2 separate regions of the Homo sapiens genome follow, and region 1 is linked to region 2. A link means that fine-mapping ties the variant in region 2 to the expression of a gene that starts in the linked region. Tissue or cell type: spleen. Region 2 holds a variant in brackets; the other region holds the start of a gene. All regions are shown on one strand. Distances are between the middles of the regions.

Region 1 (4,000 bases), 61 kb before region 2:
GAGTCGGCTTCCACACTCAACTCAGCAAAGAGGAGCAGTTGCAAGGGGGAGGGCCAGGGCTTCCTTCCTCAGGGTAAGCACCCCTGCCCAATTCAGGAGTGAGAACTGGGGGCCCCCTTCATGTTTAGTAGGATTTATTCATGTGTCTTCCTAGCTCCTTGGTAGTTCACAAATAGGAATGAAAAGGCAAGGCCTCCTGGCATTGCCTCCTGATGGTGGCCAGGCTTGTGCACGCAAGGATGCCCTCTGATTCTCTAGCTCCCAGACCCAGGAAATGGAGAAGCGTCAAAACAAGAGGGTTTGGGGGATAGGGGCACGCTGAGCTTCCTAGGGTGGGGAAAGAGGTAAAGGCCAGACACTGCTCCAATTTTCAAATAACAGGACAGTCTGCAAGCTCTAGCCAGAAATCCAGCCAGAGAGACAGAATTAAAGAAACTAAACCCAGAATCTCCAGTTGTGTTTACAGCAACAGGATTTAACCCTTTGGGTCCCACTGTCCTTGTATCCTCATGCGCCCTCTTCATCTCTTCTAGAGTGATTCTAAGCTCCCATTAGCCGGTTGGTGTACTGGGAGGAAGGTTGCGGAATTTATGGTGAGATGATTTCTTACATTACCAGGCAGAAGCCTTATTATCCATTTCGACATGCGTGCTTTATGGGGGTGGGAGTGCGTGTGTTCCTCTGTGTGAAAGTGGCTGATGTGGAAGGTGTGTGTGTGTGTTTGCAGGACCTGGGAGGGGAGTCCTCCCAGACAAGCAGGGCTTTCTTCTGCCCACCTGGTTCCAATCCCCCCGCGCCTGCCTCCAATGCATTAGCTCTTTCCAGCCCGGTCTAAACTAGGCAGTTAGAACCACGGTTCCCGGGTTCTTGGAAATTTCAGAGTGATGGAAATGACAGAGAATGTCAGCCAAAGTGTGTGTGTGTGTGAGCCCCTGAAACAGCTGAGGTGGGAATTAGGGGTCGGTAAGGAGCCAGAAATGGCCCCTGCCCCCTGAACCTGGTTCTCAAAACCCCTTAAAACCACCAGATCCTAAAAGCGTCAGGAGACGAGCCCATTAATCTGAGTCCCCACACTCCCGGCTGCAGAGGAAAAAGCAGATGACCGTGTCCAAGGGAGCTGGGACAGGTGAGGTGCAGACCGACTTCCCAGTCCCCTCCCGGCCCGCCGTGCCGCAGCCCAGCCGACGGCTGGCGCGCCAGGGACTCCAGCAGACAGCGCCCCCCGCCGCCCTGTCGCCCAGCTCGGGGCCTCCGGGGATGCGGCCCCCGCGCCACTTACCGCGCGTGCAAGCCCGAGAACAGGCAGAGGAGGAGCAGCAGCTTCGGGGCCATGGTGCCGTGGAGCTCGGGGCGCAGGGTCCGGGGCCTCGGCCGGGCGCGGCTTCCTCCGGCGCGGACCTGGTCTCCGCCGGCCCTCTTTGCCCTGGCTTCCTCCGAGGCTGCTGGCCGCGGCGGGCGGGACAGGTATCTACTCTGGCGCTGGCCGCGCCCCCGCGGGGCGCACACTGGACGCACACGGGACGCCGGGCCACCGCGGCGCGCCGCCCCCACCCGCGCACTAGCGCCGGTCCGCGCAACCGGGCGGCGGGAGCAATGGGCGCCGGGGACCCCCTGGCGCGGCGCCGCCCACCCCGCCTGGAGCCGCGAGCGGGCGCGGGTGCCCAGGCCGGGGCTGTGTGCGCTGTGCTGGGAGGTGGGGGCAGCTGGGCGGCTGTCCCCTGGCAGCGCCTCCGAGGCGGTCCCGGCGGGGAGGAGTTTCCCCAATTACACGCCTGACAACGCGCAGGGCGAGGAAGGCGAGGTTTGAATGGACTCGGAGTTTGAGGCCAGGAAGGGGGCGGAGCTCCGAGGGGGAGGGGAGGCTGGGGATCCCGCAGGGAGCCTGAAGAAAGGTCCCCGGGGTTGGCACCATGAGAGCGAGCCCGCGGTCCGCCTTCCTCCAGCCATTTCTACCCCAGTGCAGGTTTCCTCCAGCGCTCCCTGACCTCCCGTGCCCGCCGTCGCCCGGGGTTGAGACGGTTTGCCAAAAGCAGCCCTTCCATCGCACTCTTCGTGCTAAGTCGGCTGAACTCCTAGGCACTGATAAGATTCTGTGCTTGGAAAGGTGGCTTTCTGCGGGAATATTTGGGAAAAAAGCACCCCAGATTTATGCCTTTCTTACAGAAAAGAGAGACTAACACATAGCAATAAACAGTAGAGGTGGAAAGGCATGTTAAAGGTAGGAGCTAGAAAGATCCTAAGGCAAGAAGCCAAAGACGTTCCGTTTGGTGGAAGCATGAGGTGCGCCTCATTCCATGTATTTTCATATTCCAAAAACCGAAAATGGCATTTACGCTTTCATTTGTCATAATCATTCAGAAAGTTAGTCTTGCACCATGTAAGTATTGCAATCGCAACAGTGTAGTAAATCCACTAGGAATTTTACATTTCTATCACCCCCAAAAAGTTCTTAGAAAATGTTTTATAACTGCTATTCATAGAATTATGTAAGGGTGTGATAACTGTTTCTTTAATATTGTCAAATAGCTTTGTTCGGCCAGGCACAGTGGCCCAAGCCGGTAACCCCGGCACTTTGGGAGTCCGAGGCAGGCGGATCACTTGACCCCAGGAGTTCGAGACCAGCCTAGGCAATGTGCAAAAACCCTGTCTCTACAAAAAATAGTAAAGAATTAGCTGGGCATGGTGGCATGGGCCTGTATTCCTCTGGTGTGTTCCCCCTTGTTTCTGGATAGGCATGAAGTGGAGGGGAGTGCAGTTGTTAATGACAATATTGTTTTTCAACAATGGAGCTGTCATCTCCCTGGCATCACCTTTCTGTCTCTGTGAGGTGCTGAACTCACCCAGCTCCCCGCCTTTCCAGGACTCTTTCTGGCATTCTCATCCTCCTCTGCCCAGCACATCCCTCCTACTTAGGTGCACATGCCCTATAAGGTCCCCTCTTTGATGAAGACTCTGACGCTCCTGCATTCTTCCACTTCCAACACCTGTACCACTCCTTTAGGCTTCAGGGGAATATGAGCCTTTATCATACTCTGCCCTAATCTCTAATTTTCTGTACCAAAATCTGAGCACTTTAAAAATCAGTTAGATGATGATTTATTGTTCCTTCATTGCTTATGTCGTCTCCACATAAGAGACTTGAGTCTCACTCTATCGCCCAGGCTGGAGTGCAGTAGTGTCATCTGGACTCACTGCAATCTCCACCTCCCGGGTTCAAGTGATTCTCGTGCCTCATCCTCCTGAGTAGCTGGGATTACAGGCACCCACCACCACGCCTGGCTAATTTTTGTATTTTTAGTAAAGATGGGGTTTCACCATGTTGGCCAGGCTCTTCTGCAACTCCTGACTTCAAGTAATCTGCTCGCCTCGGCCTCCCAAAGTGCTGAGATTACAGGCATGAGCCACCACGCCTGAGTGTGCTGCAAGAATGCTGCAAGTAGAAACAATTCTTTTGTGTTTCCCTTCTTAACACAGTAATAGGAACATAAGTAAAAATAACCATCTGACATTGATCACATAACAGGGGCCAGGGCCGACAGGAAGGCTTTACATTGATTAACTCATTTTAACTCTCACAACATTATTTCCGTTTCGCATATAGAGAAAAAGCACAGAGAAGTTAAGTCGCTTACCCCAGGATCACACAGCTAGTAGGTGAGGACTGGGGGTTAAAAGCCAGGCAGCTGGCTCCAATGTTTCATTCCTAATCACTATACCATACTGTCTGCCTGAGTAGGTGCTCAGCTGACATTTGTTGTTGGGCTAGTTGATGAAAGTTTTGGACTTCTTACCATATTATTTATTTTTTGAGCATGAGTTAAAATACTCACAAGTTGTTTATAATAGAAATAGACTGTTACTTGAGTGATTTTGTAAAATATCAGTAAACAAGAAGTGTCCTGAGATTTGTTTGTTGTTATTATTTTTTTTACAATTCAATCAGTGAACAAGAAAACGCAATACTGTTTTTACATCCCTGTGTTCTTTATTCTTTTCCTTT
Region 2 (4,000 bases):
CTGTGCTGGCATCCAGCTCCAATCCACCAGGCCATTGCAGGCACCAGACGTGACGTTTCTGTTGCATGCACCTACTCTCAGAGCAGACCCCAGGGAAACCTCATCCCAAAGGCCCCGTGAGGCACTCTGCCAGCTCCTGGTTCATTCCTCCTCCTCTCCTGGCCAATACCGTGTGTTTATAAAAGGGACCAGAGCCGCTCCTTCTGCCATGGTGGGCTTCATTCTAGCTGTTTGGCCCTGAGAACTGCCCACCTTCCGAAAATTACTGCACTGACAATGTTGAAAGATGGCATTCTGACAAGGAATGCATACCAAGGAGCTGGCTTTTAGCATATTGCAGGAGTGTGTGTGTTTGTGTGTGTGTGTGTGTGTGTGTGTGCATGCAGCAAGGGTGGGGGCAGGGAGGGTACACAAACACAGGTGGACAGCATTTAGCTGGATCTAAAAAAAGGCACTTTTAAAGAAAAAATAACTCCAGTAAAAATGTAAAAAAGACAGTTTTTCTACAATTACCATCTCAATAAATGCTATTATTAGAGCCTTGTGACTTCTCCCAATTTTATAGAGCCCCTTAGAATTCTAAACCTCAGGAAAGTATACTTCATCTATGATAGTGTCTCTCCTCTAACACATGAATGTATTATTCAGATAAATCTCTCAATAAGAACTGTTTCAGCCTCAGTCAGGAAATAAATTTAAATTTTCGATCCCTCTAAACATTTCAAAAATGGCCTATGCTTTTATAATACTCAAAAAGTATCTCTCAGTGAAAGAAAGCCTTCTATTCATGGGGCTCTTGAAATGTGGAATGCTTTGATGTGGAACCAGCCGCCTCCACACAGAGCTGAGATCAAGGCCTCTGTGGAGTGGGTGACTGTCATAGCGCAAGAGAGACAGCTAGGTCACCTGCTTGAAACCCTCACTTTTTCGATAAAGAAAATCAAGCCCAAAAGGTTAAGAAACTTGACTGTGGAAAGACTTCACTGAATTACTGGAAGACCCAGGAATCCAGTATTTTTACAAAGGTCCAATTTCTGTTTTACTTCCAATTTCTGTTAAGACATTCAAGCATTCACTTACTGAAGCATAATGTCCCATTTTTGAAGAACATCTTGATTTTAGGATAAGGAAATGGGATTTTTTTTTTTTTTTTGATGGAGTCTCGTTCTGTCACCCAGGCTGGAGTGCAGTGGCATGATCTTGGCTCACTGCAACCTCCACCTCCCAGGTTCAAGCTCTTTTCCTGCCCCAGCCTCCAGAGTAGCTGGGATTACAGGTGTCCGCAATCACGCCCACCTAATTTTTGTATTTTTAGTAGAGACAGGCTTTCACCATGTTGACTAGGCTGGTCTCAAACTCCTGACCTTGTGATCCACCTGCCTCGGCCTCCCAAAGTGCTGGGATTACAGGTGTGAGCCACCACACCCGGTCGGGCATTTTTATAATTTAAGATAATTGCTTCAATTTGGATTTATGTCATCGTAATTGAGGGCTTAGGGTCCTAAACTCAAGAAAGAGCTCTCTGCTTGGTCAGGAGCAGCTGATGGGTGAAGAGTGCTTTATGATGGGTAAAATGGCCAAATTCTAGAGTAGCTTTGCTATTAACTAATTGTGTGACCTTTGTAAAACTGCCTAACCAATCTGGTCCAGTCTTCTTGTGTCAAAAAAAAGAAAAAAAAACATTTATTTCATTCTCTGAAATAAATAATTGATAAGTATAAAAAGGGTAAAAAGGCTTTGGCTATTACCAGTTCAATGACAATGAGGTGATTAAAGAAAGTCTCCAAAATTCTACTAAAATCTTCTTCAAATCGAAGCCTTCCTTATTCTTGTGGAAATCCTGCATCAATGCAGTAGGTGTGACAGTGGCAGGCAAAATAACAGCACTGCAAATATGTCCATGTGCCAATGCACAAAACCCCAAACCTGTGAGTATGCTACCTCACTCAGCAAAAGGGCTTTGCAGATGTGATTCATTTAAGGATCTTGGGATGGAGAGATAATCCTGGATTCTCCATGTGAGCCCAATACAATCACAAAGGTCCTTCTAAGAGGGAGACAAGAGTGTCAGATTCAGAGAAAAACATGTGATGAGGAAGCAGAGGTCGGTGCAAAGTGGCCAAGAGTCTAAGAATACAAGTGTCCTCTAGAAACCGGAAGAGGCAAGAAACAGCCTCTCCCCTAGAGCGTCCAAAAGAAATGCAATCCTGCCAACAGCTTGACTGTAGCCTCCTGGGACCCTTTTGGAATTACAAGACAATAACTTTGTTGTGTTTTAAGCCAAAATTTGTATTTCCTATTGATGCTATGACAAAATGGTGGTCTCCAAAGATGTCCATGTCCCAACTCTTCCTACCTGTCAATATGTTTCCCTTATAGCAAAAAGGACTTTTCAGATGTGGTGAATTTAAAGCTTTAGAGATGGGAGGTTTTCCTGGGTTATCTG[G/A]GTGGGACAAATGTCATCACGAGGCCACGTAGAAGAGGAAAATGGGAGTGTCAGAATCAGAGCAGGAAATCTGATGGCGGAAGTGGAAGCAAGAGTGACGCAGGACCATGAACCAAGGAATCTGGCCCCTCCAGAGGCTGGGAGAGGCAAGGACACAGATTGTCCCCTAGAGAAGCCAGAAGAGAGGCCATCCTGCCCACAGCTGCATTTCAGACACACAAGACCCATTCCAGACTTCTGGTCTCCAGTGATGTGAGAGAATAAATTTGTGTTGAAAAGTCACTAACTATGTAGTAATTTGTTAAGCAGCAACAGGAAGCTCATACAAGTCTAATGACCAGCAGTTATTGTGCCAAAGAGCAGCCCCATGCATATTTTGAAATCATTTTCACAAAGGTGACAAATAAATTTAGTAATATTAGCCAATTTGTAAGTAGCTCACATCATGTTCACTGCAGTGAAAATTCAGACTTTGATAATGAAATAGACATCTCATGTGAGGCATCCTAGCTGGGTCAGTTATTGAACAGCATGCTGTGCCTCAGCTGGAATTATTGGAAACATGACCTCCCTGTGAAGATGCTACCCGTGACTCTCAGGCAATACAGGAATTTATTTAGGGACCCTTGAAATTCAGTATCAACACAGTATCTAAAGATTGATGCTACAGAAAAGAAACAAGGCTTAATTTCATCATGATCTTTGTCTAGTCCTGAGAGGCCTTGTAAAAAACACACCAATGCTTAACTTAGAAAACTTTCTATGCACCAGAGTTGTGCCCCATCGGAAAGCCTGCAGGGTTTGGAGACACAGCGTTTGGCATTCTGCAGCTGGCATGACGGCAGGCAATATTCTTCTATTGGGCTGCAGCCTGACTCTGGTGCCTCTGGTGTACTCATAGCTGCAAGTCTGTGCAGGGCTTATTCAGCACACCAGTAGGGATGCTGCTGGTGAATTTTCACTCTACACCTGAGTCACATCCTTAGCAAGGATGGAAGAGGAGATTCACATCATGCACACGGAGCATAGTTTGTGCTATGAGTGGGGCGTCTTGGAAAGGAAACCCAGCTGTAAGGATTACAGGCCTGTTTCCCTAGAACTGACTCAAATCAAGATTAGCAAATGAAGATATACTGATCCAAATATTCAATTAAAAAGAACTGAAATACATATGCATGCATACAAGTGTATAAATACATACATACATATATATTTAATAAGTTACTGATGCTAGCAATACAGGTAGCCTGTTTCTCCTTCAGAAACTTTCCCATGAGCCCTGCCTGATGCCCAAATCCTGCCTGGCTAGACTTTTCTCCCCTGTACTACTGTGCTCATAAAAATAACTCCAAATTTGTTTACTAAAGAAAAGAATGCACGGATGTATTTGTTTTATTATATGCAGTCAGTATCACGATGTACCATGTGTGTTATTTGTATACCTGTAGTTAGGCACTGCTTGATTTTCTAGGAACCTAACTTCAGCTTACAATAATATTTCAAGGAAAAATGTATTCTGAAGCTCAGTCAACTATATGAAAACTGAACTTTTGG

Direction of the effects. Alleles are on the strand shown, and positions count from the first base shown. SD is a standard deviation of normalised expression in the study named.
For the expression in spleen of the gene that starts at base 1,687 in region 1, allele A in region 2 goes with a higher level than allele G (moderate effect, 0.65 SD a copy in GTEx).

What was found. PIP is the estimated chance that this variant, and not a neighbour inherited with it, causes the effect. A credible set is the group of variants that fine-mapping cannot tell apart.
Region 1: it holds the start of GABRG3, and the variant in region 2 is the best candidate, but not a certain one, in a credible set for the expression of GABRG3 in spleen (GTEx, PIP 0.56).

The regions. Positions count from the first base shown.
Region 1 is chr15:26,968,868-26,972,867 of GRCh38, reverse strand. It overlaps GABRG3 (gamma-aminobutyric acid type A receptor subunit gamma3), which reads right to left and starts at 1,687. Exons shown (of 10, transcript NM_033223.5): 1 at 1,280-1,687. The coding sequence starts at 1,332.
Region 2 is chr15:26,907,751-26,911,750 of GRCh38, reverse strand. The region is part of intron 6 of GABRA5 (gamma-aminobutyric acid type A receptor subunit alpha5); the gene reads right to left. Among named protein-coding and RNA genes, the nearest start is that of GABRA5, 43 kb to the right of the region's middle. The variant G/A (reference allele first, on the strand shown) is at 2,447.